Homo sapiens: one gene and its partners. The protein of the gene in region 1 interacts with the protein of each later gene in a pairwise test. Each region holds a gene or a part of one and is shown in the gene's direction. Other genes may lie near its edges. The genes, in order: CLIP4, CMYA5, SON, MYH3, TNNT1, DYNC2LI1 and MYBPC1.

What was found.
Region 2: the proteins of CLIP4 (region 1) and CMYA5 interact in a two-hybrid assay, tested with the Homo sapiens proteins (one large-scale study listed by BioGRID and IntAct).
Region 3: the proteins of CLIP4 (region 1) and SON interact in a two-hybrid assay, tested with the Homo sapiens proteins (one large-scale study listed by BioGRID and IntAct).
Region 4: the proteins of CLIP4 (region 1) and MYH3 interact in a two-hybrid assay, tested with the Homo sapiens proteins (one large-scale study listed by BioGRID and IntAct).
Region 5: the proteins of CLIP4 (region 1) and TNNT1 interact in a two-hybrid assay, tested with the Homo sapiens proteins (one large-scale study listed by BioGRID and IntAct).
Region 6: the proteins of CLIP4 (region 1) and DYNC2LI1 interact in a two-hybrid assay, tested with the Homo sapiens proteins (one large-scale study listed by BioGRID).
Region 7: the proteins of CLIP4 (region 1) and MYBPC1 interact in a two-hybrid assay, tested with the Homo sapiens proteins (one large-scale study listed by BioGRID and IntAct).

The regions. Positions count from the first base shown.
Region 1 is NC_000002.12:29,121,915-29,125,414, forward strand, and holds part of CLIP4 (CAP-Gly domain-containing linker protein 4), read left to right. Parts: intron 1-3,500.
Region 2 is NC_000005.10:79,734,836-79,738,335, forward strand, and holds part of CMYA5 (cardiomyopathy-associated protein 5), read left to right. Parts: coding exon 1-3,500. UniProt on the Homo sapiens protein: May serve as an anchoring protein that mediates the subcellular compartmentation of protein kinase A (PKA) via binding to PRKAR2A. May function as a repressor of calcineurin-mediated transcriptional activity.
Region 3 is NC_000021.9:33,553,038-33,556,537, forward strand, and holds part of SON (protein SON), read left to right. Parts: coding exon 1-2,354; intron 2,355-3,500. UniProt on the Homo sapiens protein: RNA-binding protein that acts as a mRNA splicing cofactor by promoting efficient splicing of transcripts that possess weak splice sites.
Region 4 is NC_000017.11:10,643,810-10,647,309, reverse strand, and holds part of MYH3 (myosin-3), read left to right. Parts: intron 1-29; coding exon 30-128; intron 129-1,277; coding exon 1,278-1,381; intron 1,382-1,464; coding exon 1,465-1,603; intron 1,604-2,607; coding exon 2,608-2,726; intron 2,727-2,809; coding exon 2,810-2,959; intron 2,960-3,500. UniProt on the Homo sapiens protein: Muscle contraction.
Region 5 is NC_000019.10:55,132,207-55,135,706, reverse strand, and holds the end of TNNT1 (troponin T, slow skeletal muscle), read left to right. Parts: intron 1-1,502; coding exon 1,503-1,641; intron 1,642-1,779; coding exon 1,780-1,820; intron 1,821-2,746; coding exon 2,747-2,792; 3' UTR 2,793-3,009; downstream 3,010-3,500. UniProt on the Homo sapiens protein: Troponin T is the tropomyosin-binding subunit of troponin, the thin filament regulatory complex which confers calcium-sensitivity to striated muscle actomyosin ATPase activity.
Region 6 is NC_000002.12:43,780,539-43,784,038, forward strand, and holds part of DYNC2LI1 (cytoplasmic dynein 2 light intermediate chain 1), read left to right. Parts: intron 1-2,981; coding exon 2,982-3,016; intron 3,017-3,500. UniProt on the Homo sapiens protein: Acts as one of several non-catalytic accessory components of the cytoplasmic dynein 2 complex (dynein-2 complex), a motor protein complex that drives the movement of cargos along microtubules within cilia and flagella in concert with the intraflagellar transport (IFT) system, facilitating the assembly of these organelles.
Region 7 is NC_000012.12:101,681,971-101,684,249, forward strand, and holds part of MYBPC1 (myosin-binding protein C, slow-type), read left to right. Parts: intron 1-633; coding exon 634-692; intron 693-2,279. UniProt on the Homo sapiens protein: Thick filament-associated protein located in the crossbridge region of vertebrate striated muscle a bands. Slow skeletal protein that binds to both myosin and actin.

The DNA.
Region 1 (3,500 bases):
AGATTGGTTAATGTTTAAATTGGTCCATTTACATCTCCTCTGTAAAATGTTAATTTAGAAGCATTCCACTTCTCATCTATTTAGGCTTATTTCTCCAGAACCATAATAAAAGGGAACCAGGAGATAAATTTGATAGAATTGTTAAATTTCCAGTTTAGAGTTTTTCAAGTAAAATGTTGGTTCACCATTTCAAATTGTTTTTGGAGGTAGAGATCATACAATTTTTACATATTAGTAGATATTAGTAGATATAAAGTTATTGGACTGAGAATTTGTCTTTTTAGTCATATTCGTTGTAGTATAGTAATTCCTCATCTCCAAGTTTCTTTTTTTTTTTTTTTGTATTCAGATTCTTTAGCAGCTTACCTAGACCAGTCGTCAGAAGTATTATATAAAACCTGTGCCTTGATCTTGGGAGTTATCTGCAGGTTTTGCAGTAATCAACTGGGCTTATTTTCAGATATAACAAAATCAGTTATGCAGGGGAAACCTTGAACCTTGTGCATTGTACCTTAGGTATGATACTTGTCTCACTCCATCTTGACTTCTAATTGTCTTATTTTCTTTCCTATATTGTAGCGCTTTGGGATGGAGAACAATCATTTTATTTTTGTTTATCTCAAAAAGGCTAATATAGTCATTTGTTATTAGTTGCTCAATGATTGTTGAATAAATACATTGAATGAAAGGTAATAATGGATATTGACATTTTGCATAACTGGAATTAAACGTTGAAACCCCGTCTCTACTAAAAATACAAAAATTAGCCAGGCATGGTGGTGTGCGCCTATATTGTCAGCTACTCAGGAGGCTGAGGCAGGAGAATCACTTGAACCAGGAGGCAGAGGTTGCAGTGAGCTGAGATCGCATCACTGCACTCCAGCCTGGGCCACAGAGTGAGACTTTGTCTCCAAAAAAAAAAAAAAAAAAAAAAAAGCATTGTAGTCTTAGAATTATAGGTTTTTGTAGACTCTTATGAACCTTTCCCCACTCACCTCCCTGTGTAGACATCATATTTTCAGGATCTCTGTCAGATAACCATTTAACCTCTTGCATGTCTTCAATAGTGGGAAACTAACAAAATAGTTAATTTTATTGTTAAAAAGCTTTAGTTGTAATAAAATTGTTTTCGTATGTTGACTCAAAATTGGTCTCCCTGAAATTTTGGCCAAGTGATTCTAGTTTGATACATGGCACAAATTCCTTTATAGGATAGCCTTTAAGTATCTGCAGATAGTTTGAACATTTTAACTTAGCCTGAAACTCCTTAGGCTACACATTTCTGTTTCCTTCACCAGTTTCTCATTGTCAGGATTTCTAGACCCTTTTCATCGTAGCTGCTTTCTTGGTACACTGTGGTCAGTCTCCCCTTGAAAAGCGGCATATATAATTGCATTTATTGAGCAAGTATTTATTGAGGGCCTCTTGTGTGCTAGGGACTGTCCTGGATGCTGGAGATATCAGTGACCAAGACAGGTCTTCTATAGGGAAGACCAGTAAACAAACAAATGAATAGACAAAGCAAAAATAGGTCATAATGAATTCTGTGGAAGAAAGAAACAGGGTGCTGTGATAGAGAACAATGGGGGCAAGGCAGCTGCTTTAGATGGGGTGGTCATTCGGAGAATCAGAAGAGGCTGGCTGTGAGAAGAGCCTGGGAAGAAGTGTTCCAGGAAGGAAAACAGAAAACTAAAGGCACAGTGTTGAGGGAAGACCTTGGTATATCCTAAGAATTAATGGAAGGTCTTTGTGGCTGAGAAGCAAAGTGATTGATGGCAGAGTGGGAGGAGAAGGAATTGGAGAGTAAGACACCGGCCAGGTCATGCGGGGTCATGTAGGCCCCCATAGGGAATTTTTATATAATACCAACTAATGAGTGTAAAACAAAGAAACAAAAAGAAACCAGTCCACAGAAACCAGAGTTGAGGCATGTGACTCAGTGTTGACTCTCAAGGTGATTACCCTGTGAAACTATGTACTGTTCTTGCATAACAATTTTTGGAATCTTTTGCTTTGAAATGCCTTCAGAATCAGTTCATGCAGAATACACATTATATACATTATAAATACCAAAATACCTTATTATATATTTTGCTTAAACATTGAATTATCTGTTAAATTTAAATAATATAAAAAAATCTCATTTACCCATGTAGTTACCATTTCTAGTGCTCTTCATTCCTTTGTGAGTGTAGGTCCAGATTTCCATCTGATACCATTTCCTTCCGCCTGAAGCACTTCCTGTAATGTTTCTTATGGTGCTGGTCTGCCAGTGATGAATTCTTTCAGCTGTTTTATGTCTGAAAACATCTTTATTTACCTTATTTTTTTGAAAAATGTGTTTGCTGGGTTTAGAATTATAGGTTGGTAGTTTTCTTTCAGTACTTGAAAGATCTTGCTCTGCTCTCTTCCCATTTGCATTGTTTCTGCTGTCATTTTTGTTTCTCTAGATGTAATGTCTTTTTTTTGGCTGCTTTAAAGAGTTTTTATTTTGAGCAATTTTACTATTATGTGCTTAGGTATTGTTTTCTGTATGTTCTTGTGCTTGGGTTTGGTTGAGCTGCTTGGATCTGAGTTTCAGTTTTCATTAAGTTTGGGAAATCATTTAAAAAAATTTTTTGTCTGCTTCTCCCCGTTTTCAGATACTGTAATTGCATGTATATTATAGACTGCTTGAAGTTGTCCCATAACTCACTGATTTATTTTATATTTAAACATTTTTTTCTCTTTATTTTGGATAGTTTATATTACTGCATCTTCAAGTTCATTAATCTTTCCTTCTGCAGTGTCTAATTAATTAGCTGCTGATTTTTTCCAGTGCAGTTTTCATTTCAGATGAAGTTTTCATCTCTAAAGTTTGCTTTGGCTCTTTTTTATGCCCAGGTCTCTTCTCCACCTTTGAACATTTGGAATAGAGTTATATTGACTGTTTTAATGTCCTTCTCTGTTAATTATAATATCCATGTCAACTCTAGGTCTATTATTCCCCTGATTATGGGTCATGTTTTCTTCTTTCTTTGCTTGCCTGATAATCTTTAATTGGCTGCCAGACATTGTGAATTTTACCTTGTTAGATGCTGGATATTTTTGTATTCCTGTAAGTATTCTTGAACTTTGTTCTGGGATACAGTTTAGTTACTTGGAAATAGTTGGACCCTTTGAGGTCCTACTTTTCTGATTTGTTAGGTGGGTCTGGAGCCATTCTTGGCCTGGGGCTAATTGTTCCCTACTACTGAGAATTCCACTCCAGGGGCCCTGAACCCCCTGGCTACGGACTGGTACTGGTCCCCCTACCCCGGCCCCTGGTGCCAGAAAGATTGGGGACTGCTGTTCTACTCAATGCTGTGTGAATTATGAGGATTCTTTTTCAATCTTCCTTGTGAGAATAGGCACTAATCCCTGTAGTCCTTATGGATGGTTCTTTCCCTTACTTCAAGTATTTCCTCACAAGCATATGATGAATAGTTGAGGAGGACCCTGCACAGGTCTCTGGGTTTCTC
Region 2 (3,500 bases), on another chromosome or scaffold:
CAAACACAGAGCTTTCCTGGCCTTCCAAAGAAGATAGCCAGGAAAAAATTAAACTACCTCCTGAAAGATTCTTCCAGAAACCAGTGTCTGGCCTATCAGTGGAACAGGTGAAGTCAGAAACAATCTCCTCTTCTGTCAAAACAGCCCATTTCCCGGCAGAAGGTGTGGAACCTGCATTGGGCAATGAAAAAGAAGCACACAGGAGCACACCTCCTTTTCCTGAAGAGAAGCCATTGGAAGAATCAAAAATGGTTCAGTCAAAGGTTATTGATGATGCTGATGAGGGAAAGAAACCATCACCTGAAGTAAAAATACCCACACAAAGAAAACCCATCTCCTCAATCCATGCAAGAGAGCCTCAATCCCCAGAGTCACCTGAGGTGACACAAAATCCACCTACACAACCAAAGGTGGCTAAGCCGGACCTTCCTGAGGAAAAGGGAAAGAAAGGAATTTCATCTTTCAAATCGTGGATGTCCAGCTTGTTTTTTGGATCGAGCACTCCAGATAACAAAGTTGCTGAACAAGAAGACTTAGAAACACAGCCAAGTCCATCCGTAGAAAAAGCAGTGACTGTGATAGATCCTGAAGGTACAATTCCCACCAATTTTAATGTAGCTGAGAAACCAGCTGATCATTCATTATCAGAGGTAAAACTTAAAACTGCTGATGAACCCAGAGGTACTTTAGTAAAATCTGGTGACGGTCAAAACGTTAAAGAAAAATCCATGATTTTATCAAATGTAGAAGATTTACAACAGCCAAAATTCATTTCTGAGGTGTCTAGGGAAGATTATGGAAAAAAAGAAATCTCAGGCGATTCAGAGGAAATGAACATAAACTCAGTAGTTACTTCTGCTGATGGTGAGAACCTTGAAATTCAATCTTATTCACTAATCGGTGAGAAATTGGTTATGGAAGAAGCCAAAACTATTGTTCCTCCTCATGTTACTGATAGTAAAAGAGTCCAGAAGCCAGCAATCGCTCCTCCATCTAAATGGAATATTTCTATTTTTAAGGAAGAGCCAAGAAGTGATCAAAAACAAAAATCACTCCTTTCATTTGATGTAGTAGATAAGGTGCCACAACAGCCAAAATCAGCTTCCTCCAACTTTGCAAGTAAAAATATCACAAAGGAATCAGAGAAACCAGAGTCAATTATTTTGCCAGTAGAAGAATCAAAAGGCAGTTTAATTGATTTCAGTGAAGACAGACTCAAGAAAGAAATGCAAAATCCTACTTCCTTGAAAATTTCTGAAGAGGAAACAAAACTCAGGTCTGTTAGTCCAACTGAGAAGAAAGATAATTTGGAAAACAGATCATATACCTTGGCAGAAAAGAAGGTGCTGGCAGAAAAACAAAACTCTGTGGCCCCATTAGAGCTTAGAGATAGTAATGAAATAGGGAAGACACAAATTACACTTGGATCTAGATCTACTGAACTGAAAGAATCAAAAGCCGATGCTATGCCACAGCACTTCTATCAAAATGAAGACTACAATGAAAGACCCAAAATCATTGTTGGTTCTGAAAAGGAGAAAGGTGAAGAAAAAGAAAATCAGGTATATGTGCTTTCAGAAGGAAAGAAGCAGCAGGAACATCAGCCTTATTCTGTGAATGTAGCCGAGTCTATGAGTAGAGAATCAGATATCTCTTTAGGTCATTCTTTGGGTGAAACTCAATCATTTTCATTAGTTAAAGCTACATCAGTTACTGAAAAATCAGAAGCCATGCTCGCAGAGGCTCACCCAGAAATCAGAGAAGCAAAGGCAGTAGGAACCCAACCACATCCTTTAGAAGAAAGTAAAGTTTTGGTGGAGAAAACCAAGACTTTCCTGCCGGTGGCTCTTTCTTGTCGTGATGAAATAGAGAACCACTCTTTATCTCAGGAAGGAAATCTAGTATTAGAAAAGTCAAGCAGAGATATGCCAGATCACAGTGAAGAAAAAGAACAGTTCAGAGAGTCAGAGCTATCGAAAGGCGGTTCAGTAGATATCACAAAAGAAACTGTGAAACAAGGATTTCAAGAAAAGGCAGTAGGAACCCAACCACGTCCTTTAGAAGAAAGTAAAGTTTTGGTGGAGAAAACTAAGACTTTCCTGCCAGTGGTTCTTTCTTGTCATGATGAAATAGAGAACCACTCTTTGTCTCAGGAAGGAAATCTAGTGTTAGAAAAGTCAAGCAGAGATATGCCAGATCACAGTGAAGAAAAAGAACAGTTCAAAGAGTCAGAGCTATGGAAAGGTGGTTCAGTAGATATCACAAAAGAAAGTATGAAAGAAGGATTTCCATCTAAAGAATCCGAAAGGACTTTAGCTCGTCCTTTTGATGAAACTAAGAGCTCAGAAACACCGCCATATTTGCTGTCACCTGTAAAACCACAAACTCTTGCTTCAGGAGCTTCTCCAGAAATTAACGCAGTGAAGAAAAAAGAAATGCCACGATCAGAATTGACTCCAGAAAGGCATACAGTTCATACTATTCAGACATCTAAAGATGACACATCCGATGTGCCTAAACAATCTGTTCTTGTTTCAAAGCACCACTTGGAGGCTGCGGAAGATACCCGTGTAAAGGAACCACTGTCTTCAGCAAAAAGCAACTATGCTCAATTTATATCTAATACATCAGCAAGCAATGCTGATAAAATGGTTTCTAATAAAGAAATGCCCAAGGAACCTGAAGACACATATGCAAAAGGTGAAGACTTTACAGTGACTAGTAAGCCAGCCGGACTTTCAGAAGATCAGAAGACTGCCTTTAGTATCATTTCTGAAGGCTGTGAGATATTGAATATTCATGCTCCGGCCTTTATTTCTTCAATCGATCAGGAAGAAAGTGAACAAATGCAAGATAAATTAGAATATTTGGAAGAGAAAGCCTCATTTAAAACCATACCACTCCCTGATGATAGTGAAACAGTTGCTTGTCATAAAACATTAAAGAGCAGGTTAGAAGATGAAAAAGTTACCCCATTGAAAGAAAATAAACAAAAGGAAACTCATAAGACAAAAGAAGAGATATCCACAGATTCAGAAACTGATTTATCATTTATTCAGCCCACAATTCCCAGTGAAGAGGATTATTTTGAAAAATATACTTTGATTGATTATAACATCTCCCCAGACCCAGAAAAACAGAAAGCTCCACAGAAATTAAATGTTGAAGAGAAACTCTCAAAGGAAGTTACAGAAGAAACTATCTCTTTCCCAGTAAGTTCAGTGGAAAGTGCACTAGAACATGAATATGACTTGGTGAAATTAGATGAAAGTTTTTATGGACCAGAAAAGGGCCACAACATATTATCTCATCCAGAGACCCAAAGCCAAAACTCAGCTGACAGGAATGTTTCAAAGGACACAAAGAGAGATGTGGACTCAAAGTCACCGGGGATGCCTTTATTTGAAGCAGAGGAAGGAGTTCTATCACGAACCCAGATATTTCCTACCACTATTAAAGTCATTGATCCAGAATTTCTGGAGGAGCCACCTGCACTTGCA
Region 3 (3,500 bases), on another chromosome or scaffold:
AGCAGAAGAACATGAAGTTGTTCCAGAGAGACCAGTGACTTGTATGGTATCTGAAACTCCCGCCATGTCAGCTGAACCAACTGTGTTAGCATCAGAGCCTCCTGTTATGTCAGAGACAGCAGAAACATTTGATTCCATGAGAGCCTCAGGACATGTTGCCTCAGAAGTATCTACATCCTTGTTGGTTCCAGCAGTAACTACTCCAGTGCTGGCAGAGAGCATTCTGGAGCCGCCAGCCATGGCTGCCCCAGAGTCTTCAGCTATGGCTGTCCTGGAGTCTTCGGCTGTGACCGTCCTGGAGTCTTCGACTGTGACTGTCCTGGAGTCTTCGACTGTAACTGTCCTGGAGCCTTCGGTTGTGACTGTCCCGGAGCCTCCTGTTGTGGCTGAGCCAGACTATGTTACCATTCCTGTGCCAGTTGTTTCTGCGCTGGAGCCTTCTGTGCCTGTTCTGGAACCAGCGGTGTCAGTCCTTCAACCTTCTATGATTGTTTCAGAACCATCTGTTTCTGTCCAGGAATCGACTGTGACAGTTTCAGAGCCTGCTGTCACAGTCTCAGAGCAGACTCAAGTAATACCAACTGAGGTGGCTATAGAGTCCACACCAATGATACTGGAATCTAGTATCATGTCATCACATGTTATGAAAGGAATTAATCTATCCTCTGGTGATCAAAATCTTGCTCCAGAGATTGGCATGCAGGAGATTGCATTGCATTCAGGTGAAGAACCACATGCTGAGGAACACCTGAAAGGTGACTTTTACGAAAGTGAACATGGTATAAATATAGACCTTAATATAAATAATCATTTAATTGCTAAAGAGATGGAACATAATACAGTGTGTGCTGCTGGTACTAGTCCTGTTGGGGAAATTGGTGAAGAGAAAATTTTGCCCACCAGTGAGACTAAACAGCGCACAGTATTGGATACCTACCCTGGTGTTAGTGAAGCTGATGCAGGAGAAACTCTATCTTCTACTGGTCCTTTTGCTCTGGAACCTGATGCAACAGGAACTAGTAAGGGTATTGAATTTACCACAGCATCTACTCTCAGTTTAGTTAATAAATATGATGTTGATTTATCTTTAACTACTCAAGATACTGAACATGACATGGTAATTTCCACCAGTCCTAGTGGTGGTAGTGAAGCTGACATTGAAGGGCCTTTGCCTGCTAAAGATATTCATCTTGATTTACCATCTAATAATAACCTTGTTAGTAAGGATACAGAAGAACCATTACCTGTAAAAGAGAGTGACCAGACATTAGCAGCTCTGCTCAGCCCTAAAGAAAGTAGTGGAGGAGAAAAAGAAGTACCTCCCCCTCCTAAAGAGACACTGCCTGATTCAGGATTTTCTGCCAATATTGAGGATATTAATGAAGCAGATTTAGTGAGACCGTTACTTCCTAAGGACATGGAACGTCTTACAAGCCTTAGAGCTGGCATTGAAGGACCTTTACTTGCAAGTGATGTTGGACGTGACAGATCTGCTGCCAGCCCGGTTGTAAGTAGTATGCCAGAAAGAGCTTCAGAGTCTTCTTCAGAGGAAAAAGATGATTATGAAATTTTTGTAAAAGTTAAGGACACTCACGAAAAAAGCAAGAAAAATAAGAACCGTGATAAGGGGGAGAAAGAGAAGAAAAGAGACTCTTCATTAAGATCTCGAAGTAAGCGTTCCAAATCTTCTGAACACAAATCACGCAAGCGTACCAGTGAATCTCGTTCTAGGGCAAGAAAGAGATCATCTAAGTCCAAGTCTCATCGCTCTCAGACACGTTCACGGTCACGTTCAAGACGCAGGAGGAGAAGCAGCAGATCAAGATCAAAGTCTAGAGGAAGAAGATCTGTATCAAAAGAGAAGCGCAAAAGATCTCCAAAGCACAGATCCAAGTCTAGGGAAAGAAAAAGAAAAAGATCAAGCTCCAGGGATAACCGAAAGACAGTTAGAGCTCGAAGTCGAACCCCAAGTCGTCGGAGTCGGAGTCATACTCCAAGTCGTCGACGAAGGTCTAGATCTGTGGGTAGAAGAAGGAGCTTTAGCATTTCCCCAAGCCGCCGCAGCCGCACCCCCAGCCGCCGCAGCCGCACCCCCAGCCGCCGCAGCCGCACCCCCAGCCGCCGCAGCCGCACCCCCAGCCGCCGGAGCCGCACCCCTAGCCGTCGGAGCCGCACCCCAAGCCGCCGGAGAAGATCAAGGTCTGTGGTAAGAAGACGAAGCTTCAGTATCTCACCAGTCAGATTAAGGCGATCAAGAACACCCTTAAGAAGAAGGTTTAGCAGATCTCCCATCCGTCGTAAAAGATCCAGGTCTTCTGAACGAGGCAGATCACCCAAACGTCTGACAGATTTGGGTGAGTCATTTTAAAGTTTAATGGGATGGTAGTAGAAAATGTTTTAAACCTTAATTTTTTTCTGACCTTGAGTCAAGTGAAATACTTAGTTACTGGTTTAGGATAAATGTTTCTGTCTTTAAGTTTTTATTATTACATGGTACTGTATTTAGGAACTACTGGGATCAGTGTATTATAATTAGAGTTAAAAAGTCCTGTTTCAGAGTATAATAGAACCAAGGTGTTTCCATATTTGAATGTTTTATTTTGTTTTAGTTATCTTGCCATAGCTAAAAATTGAAAGCAGAAACAGATGTAGAACTCTAGCTAAATTAAAAACAAGCTAAGTATATGCTCAGATTGTTATTGTATGTGTTCTAACATACATCCTTGCAACTAAGCCTAAAATTACAATGTTCCTTTTTAAATAAGTTAACATATCTTAAAATGGCATTATAGGACTGTTAAATGAAGGTAATTCTGATTGGTATAGTTGGTAATGGAAGTGAGTGGGGAATTTTGCGTGTGGGGGTTATTTAATTGGGTAGGTGATACTAGCTAAATAAAGTTAAATATTTTAGATCAGTGTGATTTTTAATAACCTGTTCTGCTTTACTTTAAAGATAACTGTTCTAATTTCCCCTGATTTTTAGTGTGCAGAGGTGATTAAAACTTGATCGATATGAATGATTACCTATAATAAATATGGATAATTTATCCTTATCCCAGTATACTGGACATTTCTAGGCCAGGATTGTCTAAAGAAGAAGAGGTTAAGAGTAAAAAGGGAGAATCTGCATTCAGTTCAACAGAAGTTTTCTGAGTTCTTTTTTATTCACAGCAGAGGAACAGTATGTAATTCCTCAAGTGATTGCAAGTGGTGGAGGAGACATGGGTAAAATGCATATATGTCTCTCTTATAGTAACACTGTCTAAAAAGGACAGAATGTGATTACTATAATACTGATAGAGGTGAGGTACTTTAGGAACACAATGGGAAAAGGGGAAAAGGAATGTTAATTCTGACTTAATGACAGCTTGTTAGAAGAGGTGGCACTTCGGCTGGGCATGGTGGCTCATACCTGTAATCCCAGCACTTTGGGAGGCCGAGGCAGGTGGATCACCTGAGGTCAGGAGTTCGAGACCAGCCTGGCCAATGTGGAGAAA
Region 4 (3,500 bases), on another chromosome or scaffold:
TGAAAGAGAGTCCTGTGTTTGTGTTCCAGATCTTCTGGAAAAATCAAGAGTCACTTTCCAGCTGAAGGCTGAAAGAAGCTACCACATCTTCTACCAGATTCTTTCTAACAAGAAGCCTGAGCTCATAGGTGAGGAAGTCACCAGTGGGGCTGGTCTTTTAGGTAGTTTGACTCTGATCACTAGACCAAGGAGAGTTGTATCTACGTAGAGTGACTCTACAGTCAACAGGGAAAGTTTATTTTATTTTATTTATTTATTTTGAGATAGGGTCTCACTCTGATGCCCAGGCTGGGGTGCAGTGGCACAAGCACAGCTCACTTGTAGTCTTGACCTTTCTGGGTTCAAGTAATCCTCCAGCCCCAGCCTCCCGAGTGGCTGCGACTACAGGTGCATGCCCCCACACCAGGCTACCTTTTGTGTTTTTTGTAGAGATGAGGTTTCACCATGTTGCCCAGGTTGGTCTTGAACTCCTGGGCTCAAGCAATTTGCCCGACTCGGCCTCCCACAGTGCTGGGATTATAGGTGTGAGCCACTGCACTTTGCCAGGAAAAGCTTATTTTAGAAATGGGATGTGGCTATCTGGGCAGTGACATGCCAATTTGAAAACCTAATCAAATGGAGGGCAACAAGATTAGACCACTCCTGACCAGCTCTGGTTTATAAAAACCTTCTGAGCAACTGAACACCTAACTGTCCTTTGGCGCCCCCTTGTGTTCTGGCACAGAAACAACCTATGGCCAAATGCGACGCCAAAGCAAACAGAATAATCAAGCCCACGGAGGCACTGCACACTGCCCCTTGTCTGCCCCTCACAGAGGTCTCCATGCACACTGCTTCTTTGCTCTTTGGCTGTATTTGCTCAGCCTTCTGGTCTCCAGCTTGGAAACAGGCTGCTGCTTTTCAACAGATTTTAGAAAAGGCTATGATTATACCAAACCACCTGGGTTGGCTCTCGTCCTGACCCGCACTCAGCCAGTTTTCCCTATTAACTTCTCCCAGCCGACACTGATATGCACCATTAGCGTGCAAGGCAAGGGAATTTAAAGGTTCTCTCTAGGGTCCTTCATCTCCATTGTGTGGGAGACTGAAAAGTCTTCCCTGGACTATATTTTCCATGACAGCCTGAGTATTGTGGAACTGTCTAAAAGATTTTTAATTCTAAGTTCAATTTAGGATCCAGCGGTAAAAGTTCCAGCCCAGGGTGCAGGAGCTCAAGTCCACTGGGTGGGTTTTTTCTTTGCATCTGCATAACCTCCTGGAACTATTTGTCATTTCAGAGCTGCTGCTTATTACGACCAACCCTTACGACTACCCGTTCATTAGCCAGGGGGAGATCCTGGTGGCCAGCATAGATGATGCAGAGGAGCTGCTGGCTACAGACGTAAGTGGAACCAACAGAAGGGGTGGGTGTTCCTCCTCCATCACTGGGGCCAACTGACTGACGTGCTGCCCTTTCCATGCCAGAGCGCCATTGACATCCTGGGCTTCACCCCAGAAGAGAAATCTGGGCTCTACAAGCTGACGGGAGCCGTGATGCACTACGGGAACATGAAGTTCAAGCAGAAGCAGCGAGAGGAGCAGGCCGAGCCGGATGGCACAGAAGGTACAAAATCAGTGTGACAGCAAACCAGAGCGGGTGGCTGATCTGCTGAGGTCACTTGGTACTGCTTTTGAAAGCAATTAATCCAGCCAGGCACAGTGGCTCACACCTGTAATCCCAGCACTTTGGGAGGCTGAGGGGGCCAGATCACCTGAGGTCAGGAGTTCGAGACCAGCATGGCCAACATGGTGAAACCCCATCTCTACTAAAAAAAATTAGCTGGGCATGGTGGAGCATGCCTATAATCCCAGCTACTCAGGAGGCTGAGGCACGAGAGTCAGACAGAGTTTTGCTCTGTCATCCAGGCTAGAGTGCAGTGGCATGATCTCAGCTCACTGCAACCTCTGCTGCCTGGGTTCAAGTGATTCTCCTGCCTCAGCCTCCCGAGTAGCTGGGATTACAGGCACACACCACCGCGCCTGGCTAACTTTTTTGTATTTTTAGTAGAAACGGGGTTTCACCATGTTGGCCAGGCTCAAACTCCTGACCTCAAATGATTCGCCTGCCTTGGCATCCCAAAGTGCTGTGATTACGGGTGTGAGCCACTGTGCCCTGCCGGCATGAGAGTTTCTTGAACCCAGGAGGCAGAGGTTGCAGTGCACTGAGATCGTGCCACTGCACTCCAGCCTGGGCAACACAGTAAGACTGTCTCAAAAAAAAAAAAATGGATGGAAGCGATTAATCCTTCCATCTGGAGAAGTGAATGACCCTTTCTGGGCCTCCGATGCCCATAGCTATTGTTACCACTCGCTTTTCCTGAATCACTCGAATAGTCTTGTTTCAGATGCAGTGAGGGATGACCAGGGCTTTCTGAGACCCAGCCCTGGCTTTTCATAAAGTCCATTATATTCTCTGAGTGACTTAGCTTCCATTGGCCATGTATATGCAGTTTAGCCACAGGGAATGCACAATGTACCAAGATGAACTTAACCAACCTTTGAAACTTCTGGATGATTTTCAAAGCAGCTCTTCTACTTTTCTAAGCACTGTCCTTGTTTTCTTGCCAGTGGCTGACAAAACAGCCTATCTGATGGGCCTGAACTCTTCGGACCTCCTAAAAGCTTTGTGCTTTCCTAGAGTGAAAGTTGGGAATGAGTACGTTACCAAAGGTCAAACTGTGGATCAGGTAACAGCTTCAAGGCCGGGAAAGGGTGCAGGACCCTGCTGGCCACTTCCTTCATATCCAGTAGCTGATCTTTCCCCTGATAGGTTCACCATGCTGTGAATGCTCTTTCAAAATCAGTTTATGAAAAGTTGTTCTTGTGGATGGTCACTCGCATTAACCAGCAACTGGATACGAAGCTTCCAAGACAACACTTCATTGGTGTTTTGGACATTGCAGGCTTTGAAATCTTTGAGGTTTGTGTTACTTATATTCATATTTTCATATGGCTTCATATGAGGGAAATTGGTTTCATGATCCTAAAGGGAAGATAGCAAGATGGCGGCTGTCTTAGTTTCCTGTAAGAAACTAGATGGAGAGTGGATGGAATAGAGGAGCGGTACTTATTGGAAGGGTTTGTATTAGGGTTTTTTGTTTGTTTTTTTTTTTTGAGACTGAGTTTCACCCTGTCACTCAGGCCAGAATGCAGTGGCGCCATCTCGGCTCACTGCAACCTCTTCCTGAGTTCAAGTGAACCTCCTGCCTCAGCCTCCTGAATAGCTGGGATTACAGGCGTGTGCCACCATGCCTGGCTAATTTTTGTATTTTTAGTAGAGATGGGGTTTCACCATGTTGGCTAGGCTGGTCTCGAACTCCTGACCTCAAGTGATCCATCCGCCTCGGCCTCCGAAAGTGTTGGGATTACAGGCATGAGCCACCGCACCTGGCTGGGTTTGTATTATTTTAAAAGAGGAGAAGATGTCTATCAAGTGGAATTTTAAAGGACATTTTCAAATG
Region 5 (3,500 bases), on another chromosome or scaffold:
AAAAATACAAAAATTAGCCGGGCGTGGTGGCAGGCGCCTGTAATCCCAGCTACTCTGGAGGCTGAGGCAGGAGAATCACTGAACCCAGGAGGCGGAGGTTGCGGTGAGCCGAGATGGCACCACTGCACTCCAGCCTGGGCGACATGAGCGAAACTCTGTCTTAAAAAAAAAAAAAAAAAAAGGCTGAGGTGAGAGGATCACTAGAGCCTGAGAGGTTGAGACTGCGGTGAGCTGTGATGGTGTCACTGCACTCCAGCCTGGGTGACAAAGTGAGACCCTATCAAAAAAAAAAGAAAAGAAAGAAAAGAAGGAAGGAAGGAAGGAAGGAAAGGTAGGTTTTAGTCCAGGGCTGGTATGGCAATTCTACAAAATCAGAGACCAGACTCCTATGTTTTCTGCTTCACTCACTACTTTTAGCCCAATATTTCCATCCTCAAAATCACTTAGTCCAATATAGCTGCTAGCTCCAGCCTCACATGGATGATCCAAGCAGCAGAAAGAAGACGCAAGAGAAGAGCCACACAGTCTCTTTTGGAAGCCGCACCCAGTGACCTGCTTTCGTCTGAGTAGCCACCCCTACCTGCAAGGGAGATTGGGCAAAGTAGTTTTTCAACTCAGCCTAATGCACAAGAGGCTATTTCTAGAAGAAAGGGAGAAGGGCTAACAGGTAGGCAAGCAGCCATCTCTTCCACAGTTTTATTTCCATATTTTCTAGAGAAGGAAACAGGATTCTAAAGGAAGTCATGTGACATATTCATAAACCAGAGAATGGCATGGCTGGGAATTGAACCAGGGGCTTCTAACTGCAGAGCCTGGGCTCGGTCTTTTCTTTCTTCCTTTTCTTTCCCCTCTCCCCTCCCCTCCCTTCCCCTCGTCTCCCCTCCCCTCCCCTCCCCTCGTCTCCCCTCCCCTCCCTCCCTCCCCTTCTTCTTCCCTCCTCTCCCCTCCCCTCTTCTCCTCTCCCCTCCCCTCTTCTCCTCTCCCCTCCCCTCTTCTCCTCTCCCCTCCCCTCCCCACTTTCCTTTCTCCTTTTCTTTCCTTTCTTTTGTCTTGCTCTGTTGCCAGGCAGGAATACAGTGGTGCAATCACAGCTCACTGCAGCTTTGACCTCCCAGGTTCCTTCTGCCTCAGCCTCCCAAGTAGCCGGAAACACCCTGCCTGGCTAATTTTTTTAATTATTTTTAGCAGAGACGGGGTCTCTCTTTGTTGCCCAGGCTGGTCTTGAACTCCTGGGCTCAAGTGTTCTGCTGGCCTCTGCCTCCCAAAGTGCTGGGATTACAGGTGCCGAGCCTGGTCTCTTAATCATGACACCCTTCTCTCCCCTTGGGAAATGCGAGAGCTCCAGCTCGGATGTGGAGAAAGTGGGCACAGATTTTAAAACTCTCGGCCTCAAATATGAACAAAATGGTGCCGACAACGCTGAACTCACAGTCTCGCTGTGTGGCTTTGGGTGGTTCCCACAACCTCTCTGGGCCCAAGTTCCTCTCCGTCCCTGGGCCTAGGGCCCGGTCTGCCTGGCTGCCTCCATCACAGCCCTCCTGCCCTGCCAGGGAGAAAGCCCAGGAGCTGTCGGACTGGATCCACCAGCTGGAGTCTGAGAAGTTCGACCTGATGGCGAAGCTGAAACAGCAGAAATATGAGGTGAGACCCAGCTCCGCAGGGAGGGAGGGAGAGAGGGCAGGGCTGGGCTGGGAGGGACCAGCAAACTCCAGGCAGGGGTGGGTGGCCCGTCCCCACGTCCCCACCGGCTGTCCCAGCATCTGTCTTCTGCCTCCGCAGATCAACGTGCTGTACAACCGCATCAGCCACGCCCAGAAGTTGTGAGTGTGACCGTCTCAAGCCCTTGCTCTTGTCCCTACCCTCCCGCTGACTCTCAGGCCTCTTTCCCTCCCTCTGTGGGCTCCATCCCCCACTGCCTGAGTTTCTGCCCCTTTCTCTTTGTCCTTCCTTCTCTGTCCTCCTCTCTCTGCTCTCGGAATCCTGGGTCTCAGTTCCTTTTTCTTTTTCTTTCTTTTTTTTTTTTTTTATTGAGACTGCGTCTCGCTCTGTCACCCAGGCTGGAGTGCAGTGGAGTGATCTCAGCTCACTGCAACTTCCATCTCCCGGGTTCAAGCGATTCTCCTGCCTCAGCCCCCTGAGTAGCTGGGATTACAGGTGCGCGCCACCAAGCGTGGCTAATTTTTGTATTTTTAGTAGAGACGGGGTTTCACCATGTTGGTCAGGCTGGTCTCGAACTCCTGACCTCGTGATCCACCCGCCTTGGCCTCCTAAAGTGCTGGGATTACAGGCGTGAGCCACCGCGCCCAGCCGAGAGGGTCTTCCCTGAATCTCTCTGTTTCTCCACTCCCTCTTCCTTCCTCCCTCCTCTCCCTCTCCCTTCTCCTCTTCTCCCATTTCCTGTCTCTTTCACCCCAGCCCTTCCTGCGTGTTACCCACCCATGCCCAGATCATCCAACCCTTCCTCCCCCCACCCTGGCCCCTGACTCATAAACATTCATCAGCTCCCCCATGAACACCCTGCACTCGCCCCCAAATATCAGCTCCCACATGTCAGCGAGGCTTTGACCACCAGCCGCTGCCCCCCAGTCATAGAACCCAAAAGAGGTGACAGTTGTTTTGCTCACTGCTTCCTCTGGGCAGGGAGGGCTAATATTTTGGGGAATGGGCTTCCTGAATTGAGGGCCTGGGGCCCATTTCAGAGACTGGAGGGGCCCCTTTTTCCTGATACCACCTCATTCTTCTACAGCCGGAAGGGGGCAGGGAAGGGCCGCGTTGGAGGCCGCTGGAAGTGAGGATGCCGCCCCGGACAGTGGCACCTGGGAAGCCTGGGAGTGTTTGTCCCATCGGTAGCTTGAAATAAACGCTCCCCTCAGACACCCGCTGGGTTCTCTGATGTTATTATGGTTGAGATGCAGCTGGTCTCTCCTGGTTAATTGACTTCTTATTACCAACAAGTTACTTGAAAGAGTGTCACCAATAATCATTAAAGTACGGCAGGCTGAACCTTCACACACTGCTGGTGGGAATGGAAAATGCAACAGCTTTGCAAGCAGCCTGGCGGTTCCTCAACAAGTGAAAGCATTTCTGCAGGACCCAGCAGTTCCCCTCCTGGATGTATATCCAAGAGAACCAAGAACCTTTGTCCACACAAAAGCTTGTACATGAATGTTCATAGTAGCATTTTTATTTTTAATTTTTAGAGACAGGGTCTTGCTCTGTCGCCCAGGCTGCAGTGCAGTGGCGTGATCACGGCTCACTGCAGCCTTGAATTCCTGGGCTCAAGTGATCCTCCCACAACAGCCTCTGAAAGTGTTGGGATTTTAGGTGTGAATCACTGCACCGGCCGCAGCATCTTTTTTTTTTTTTTTTTTTGAGATGGAGTCTTGCTCTGTCACCCAGCCTGGAGTGCAGTGGCATGATCTCGGCTCACCGCAACCTCCACCTCCCGGGTTCAAGCAATTTTCCTGTCTCAGCCTCCCAAGCAGCTGGGACTACAGGTG
Region 6 (3,500 bases), about 15 Mb from region 1:
AGTGAGAATAAATAGCTTCGTTTAACAAGGCTGCAGAGGAAGGGGTTCAGGGTAAGTCATATTTTAGTTAAGGCCAACATGTGGAGAGAATATTCTGAAAAGGCTGAGATATTGGGGAGTTTGCCAGTCATGGAGCTGAAGTCATAGAGTGGAAGGATTTTAGAGGAAGGGAAGACAGAAGGGGATTATTGGGCCAGATTAAGGGATGTTTACAGAGTTAGGAAATTCAGAGTTCCAGGGATAATGGGTCAGAGGAGAGGGCTGGACATCTGGGGCGATTGAGGCAATGGGAGGGAAGATGGGATTCATTTTGATGGTCTCTAAATGAACTTGTACTAGGTCAATGTTTCTTGAATTAGGAAACCCACAAGACTACAGCCACATGCTCAGGGGACCAGAGTGTACTAATGAATTTTTAAATTTTGGATTGTAATTTTAATGATAATCTAAAACTTGATTTCAGTTCCCAGATTAGTTTATGTTAATTTGGAATTGTTACCATATAGTGCTATACATTTATATGAAATAATAATAAAAGTGATTTAAGGCCAGGCGTGGTGGCTCAAGACTGTAATCCCAGCACTTTGGAAGGCTGAGGTGGGAAGATCACTTGAGGCCAGGAGTTCAAGACCAGCCTGACCAACATAGTGAAACCCCATCTCAACTAAAAAATACAAAAAGTTACCTGCACGTGGTGGTGCATACTGGTAATCCCAGCTACTCCGGAGGCTGAGGCCTAAGAATCACTTGAACCCAGAGGCAGAGGTTTCATGAGCCAAGATGGTGCCACTGCACTCCAGCCTATGCAACAGAGGGAGACTCTGTCTCAAAAAAAAAAACAAAAAAGGCGAGGGGGAGTGATTTAAATCAATGAATACTAGTGTACCATGAAAATTTGAGGAAATTGGCTAGATATTATTTAAAATTCCTTCCAATTCTTATTCTACTTTCTTGCAGAGTACATTACTTTTTGGGTAATGTAGCCCTTATTAATTTAGAACTTTTACAGCATACTACATATGATACAAGTTCATTGTAGGAAAATTAGAAAATCCTGATTTTCTTTTTCTTTTTTTTTTTTTGAGACAGAGTCTCGCTCTGTCGCCTAGGTTCGAGTGCAGTGGTGTGATCTCGGCTCACTGCAGCCTCTGCCTCCTGGGTTCACACCATTCTCCTGCCTCAGCCTCCCAAGTTGCTGGGACTGCAGGTGCCCACGACCACGCCTGGTAATTTTTTTGTATTTTTAGTAGAGTTGGGGTTTCGCCATGTTAGCCAGGATGGTCTTGATATCCTGACCTCGTGATCCACCCGCCTCGGCCTCCCAAAGTGCTGGGATTACAGGCGTGAGCCACCATGCCTGGCAGAAAATCCTGATTTTCTTAAAAACTTTAATTACCTTCAAATCCTTCAGCTAGAAATAATCATTATTAACATAGTGATGTCCCCCTACATTTGTGTGTTTGTTTCTGTCTATGTGTGTGTGTGTGTGTGTGTGTGTACTTCAAGGAAGCAGGAAAAGTATTTTTTAATTGAAAACAGAGACATGCTGATCTATTATGAATGTTTTACTATGTCAGTAAGTATATTTCTACATTGTCATTCATAATAGCTGTATATTATTCTATTATATGGTTTACCATAATTAATTTAGCCAGTAGGGGACATGTAGGTTGTTTTTAGTTTTTCAGTTTGATGTAACACTGGCCAATAAACATCCTTCAATAATATACATTTTTATATTGTACAATTCCAGTTATTTTTTAATATATCTCATTACAAAAAATTTACTCAATTTGATCGTATTCCAGATATAATCTGGAGTAATTATCTTTTTTGTCAAAAACTATAGGTTTTTTTAGTAAAAACAAAAACACATATAATAAGTGTTCTGTGTTTTTGGCAATCCAGAGTTTTCCAAATTATTTTCTTTAGAGCCTGAAGGTTTCCTCCAGTGGAGCTTGTCCTGCTGTTTCTCTTTTATCTGTTTCCTTGCAAGGGGTCTTTTCTTTAAAAAAAAAAAAAAAAAAAGGATTTTACTATTTTTTAAAAATGATATAAACCACTGAGCTAATCCCTGGCTAAGCTGTGAAGTTAAGTTGCCTGACTAGTGGTAGGAATTAGGCCAGAACTTGTATTTCCTTACTCCTAAAAAGAAACTTGGGGTTGGGCATGGTGGCTCACACCTGTAATCCCAGCACTTTGAGAGGCTGAGGTGGGCAGATTAGATGAGGCCAGGAGTTCAAGACCAGCCTAGCCAACATGGCAAAACCTTGTTTCTACTAAAAATACAAAAATTACCCAGGCATGGTGGTGTGCACCTGTAATCCCAGCTACTTGAGAGGGTGAGGCACGAGAATCACTTGAGCCCAGGAGGCAGAGGTTGCAGTGAGCCAAGATCATGCCACTGCACTCCAGCCTTGGCAACAGAGTGAGACTCTGTCTCAAAAATAAAATAAAATAAAATAAAAATAAACAGAAACTTGGAATAAGTACATCCTCTGGACTTAAAACAAATTACTCTAATGCAGTATCTGAATTGCTTACTTTGAACATATTTACAATGTGTCCTTTATTTGTATGTTACCTTTTTCTTTATTTCCACTTCAACAATTGGAATTAAAACATTTTAAAAGACACTAAGCATCGGCTTAACCAGTAATTAACATTGATGAGTAGAGAAAAAATTTAAGACAGCTGCCAAGTTGACCACTTAAGTGAGGTATGATTTGCTAGTATTTGTCATCTGTGGGACTTTATAATTATAATAATAGCAGTGTAGTTACACTGTGATGGAAAGTTGACAGTTAACTTTTTCCACTTATCAAACTTTAGAACAATTCCGAAAGTTTCTAGTTTTTAGTTTCCAGGTAATTTATCATTCAATTGATTAAAAATCTATTTTGGGCCACAATTACGAACAATAATACAATTTTTACATATGAGTGACATTAACGCAGTGTTCCTTCTTTTTTAATTTCCAGGGAAAGACTACTATTATTCTAAGGTGTCTTGACAGGTAAGTGTTATGTTAACCTTTAAACTATATTTATGCTTATTCTAGTTGTATAGGGCAAGTTAGCTCTAAAAGACATAAGGAAGGGGAACGATTTTGAGACCCAAACAAAATATTTAATTCTTAGCAAATCCTTAGTATAACCTTTAAGAGCGCCTTTAAATATAAAACTAACAATAAGCCAAAAATTATATGAGACTAATACTGGATTTCCCTATTTGAGGGAGAAATGTTACCATAATTACCCAACCTACAATAGTATTTACCTTCTTTTTGGCTATGCTACTCTGATATTTAAATTATTTTTGTTCTACCTAATCTACAATTATTTGAACATTCATTGTAAGCTTTAGTTGCTCAGGGGTACATTTTTGAAGCACAGTGTTGGTCCTCAAACTGGATATTTTATCATTTATTTTATATATTTCCTAACGTATACTGTAGAAGCAGGCCATCAGATTAAGATTTAGCAGTATGATTGGTAGAT
Region 7 (2,279 bases), on another chromosome or scaffold:
GGAAAAAGATTTGATTTTTTTTTCCTCACAAATATAAGGCATATAATATTCTTAGAAAATTTCAAGCCTTACTATTGAGATAACCCTTACAAATTTAAACATTTTTAGCTGCTTTATTGGCTTTAAATGATTAAGTTCATAATTGCAAGTCATCTGGTTTCTAAACTGCTAGCCTTATTAGTTCCAAAGTATTGTTGATGCTTTTGTTTCAATATCCCCCCAAAAAACAAAAACTAAAAAAAAAAGTACCACTTATTTATGCTTTGAAACTAGCTGAATGTTGTTAATGATATAAAATGATGCTTTAACAAATGGAACAATATTTGGGGCCCTCCTTAAAAGCGAATAGTATTATACATATACATGATATATTCTTTTTAGTGAAAATGTAGTAAATGGTACAGTAATTAAATTTGATAAAAAGAATAATGTATTCTAGTACATAAGTTCGTAATAAAGTATCAATTGTGATATATTGATAAAAGCTTTTGGTCCTAAAAGTAAAGCTGAAATTGTTTATCATCAGACTGTTACTCTGATAATAGGTAACTTGAATCAAGTTGAGTTGTGAAAAAAGGTAAGAATGTCAACTGAGAATAAATAAATACTGGTACAAATATTCTGATTCTGCAGTGATATATCAAGGAGTAAATACCCCTGGACAACCAGTCTTCCTGGAGGGGCAGCAACAGGTTTAAAAAGTTTATATCCCACTGGATATTCTACTTTCCGTTCCATTCCTCTTACATGAAAATGCACCTTGCATGTAAAGCTTGACTTTCTCATTTGCTTTTAATTGTACCCCTTAGCAGCTCATGGCATACAGTGCTTATGCCATGAACAAGGAAGGCCAAATTATTCAAGGATATTAAGTAATGTAGAAACTAAGTTTTGTCAGAAAGCTACATACCATACCACAAGTCTCCATGAATAAAGCCAGAAAGCTACATTTGAAGATGATCTCGTTTTATATAATAAGACTATCAAAACTTGGGTATCAATATTTCTTTAATATTTTCATTTTTTAAATGTAGAGAGACTTTTTTAAAGATAGTTGACAGCATAGTTTCCTTACATTCATGATGCAATTCAGAGAACTGAACATTTCAAACATTTTTTTTGATGTTCTGAGCATTTTTTATGGAAAGAGGATACAAAAATAGATCCAATATTTAGAGGCTGGGCGTGATGGTTCTCGCCTATAATCCCAGCACTTTGGGAGGCTGAGGTAGGTGGATCGCTTGATCCCAGGAGTCCAAGATCAGATTGGGCAACATGGCAAACTCCCATCTCTACAAAAAGTACAAAACTTAGCCAGGTGTGGTGGCACATGCCTATAGTCCTAGCTACTTGGAGAGCTGAGGCAGGAGGATCACTTGAATCTGGAAGGTCGAGGAGGCTTCAGTGAGCCAAGATCTCCAGCTTAGGTGACAAAGTGAGACTTTGTCTCAAAAAAATAAAAAATAAAAAAAATAAATTGGGAAACTTACATATTTAAAATATTCCCATTACAAATTCACAAGTAGAATATCTGTAACCCATCTATCTGTTGAAGATTTTGGACATTTTCATGGGGACTCAAATTATTTCACGTTTATGAACTTAAAAGGAAAGAAAATTCCAGGCTCTATTACAAAATGTATCAAGCAATAAATGAGTACTATCATATATATGTGATTCACCCCCATTTGGAATTGCAAATTAAGAGTTTTTTGCAGCTGGGTATGCAACCTGATAAAAACCCTGATAATGTAGATCTATGCCTGAGTTTACAATATTTGTTTTGTGAGTTTCCAGAGATAATAACAGCTTTCAAAAGAGGAAAAAAGTAAGGTTCTTTTTTGAAAGCTTTGTAGATTGTATATAGAATAGCTTTGTAACATAAGGTTTTGTGTCTATTTAGATCAGTCATATATATTCCATGCAGAATACAATATTATAGAATACACTAGTCTAATATTTGTACTTGATAATTTTGCCTTTTAGAATTTCAACATATATATATGTACACTAACACTTTGTCTATTGTCTATGTTTTTCTTTTGTTGAAAAACACGATATATATATGTTGTAGGGTTTTGGTTTTTGTATTTGTTTTAAGCTAATGGTTTGGAAGCTCTTACCATAGATATTCACTATACAATCAGAATGACTTTGCCACCTATTCAGGCAAAGTAGTTGTGCATATTAATAAATGTTTTACATATTAATGATCCTTTTGACGTGACTGGATCCCCACCCTTCATTTCATGTGCTTCTATTTTCCTACATCTTTTACA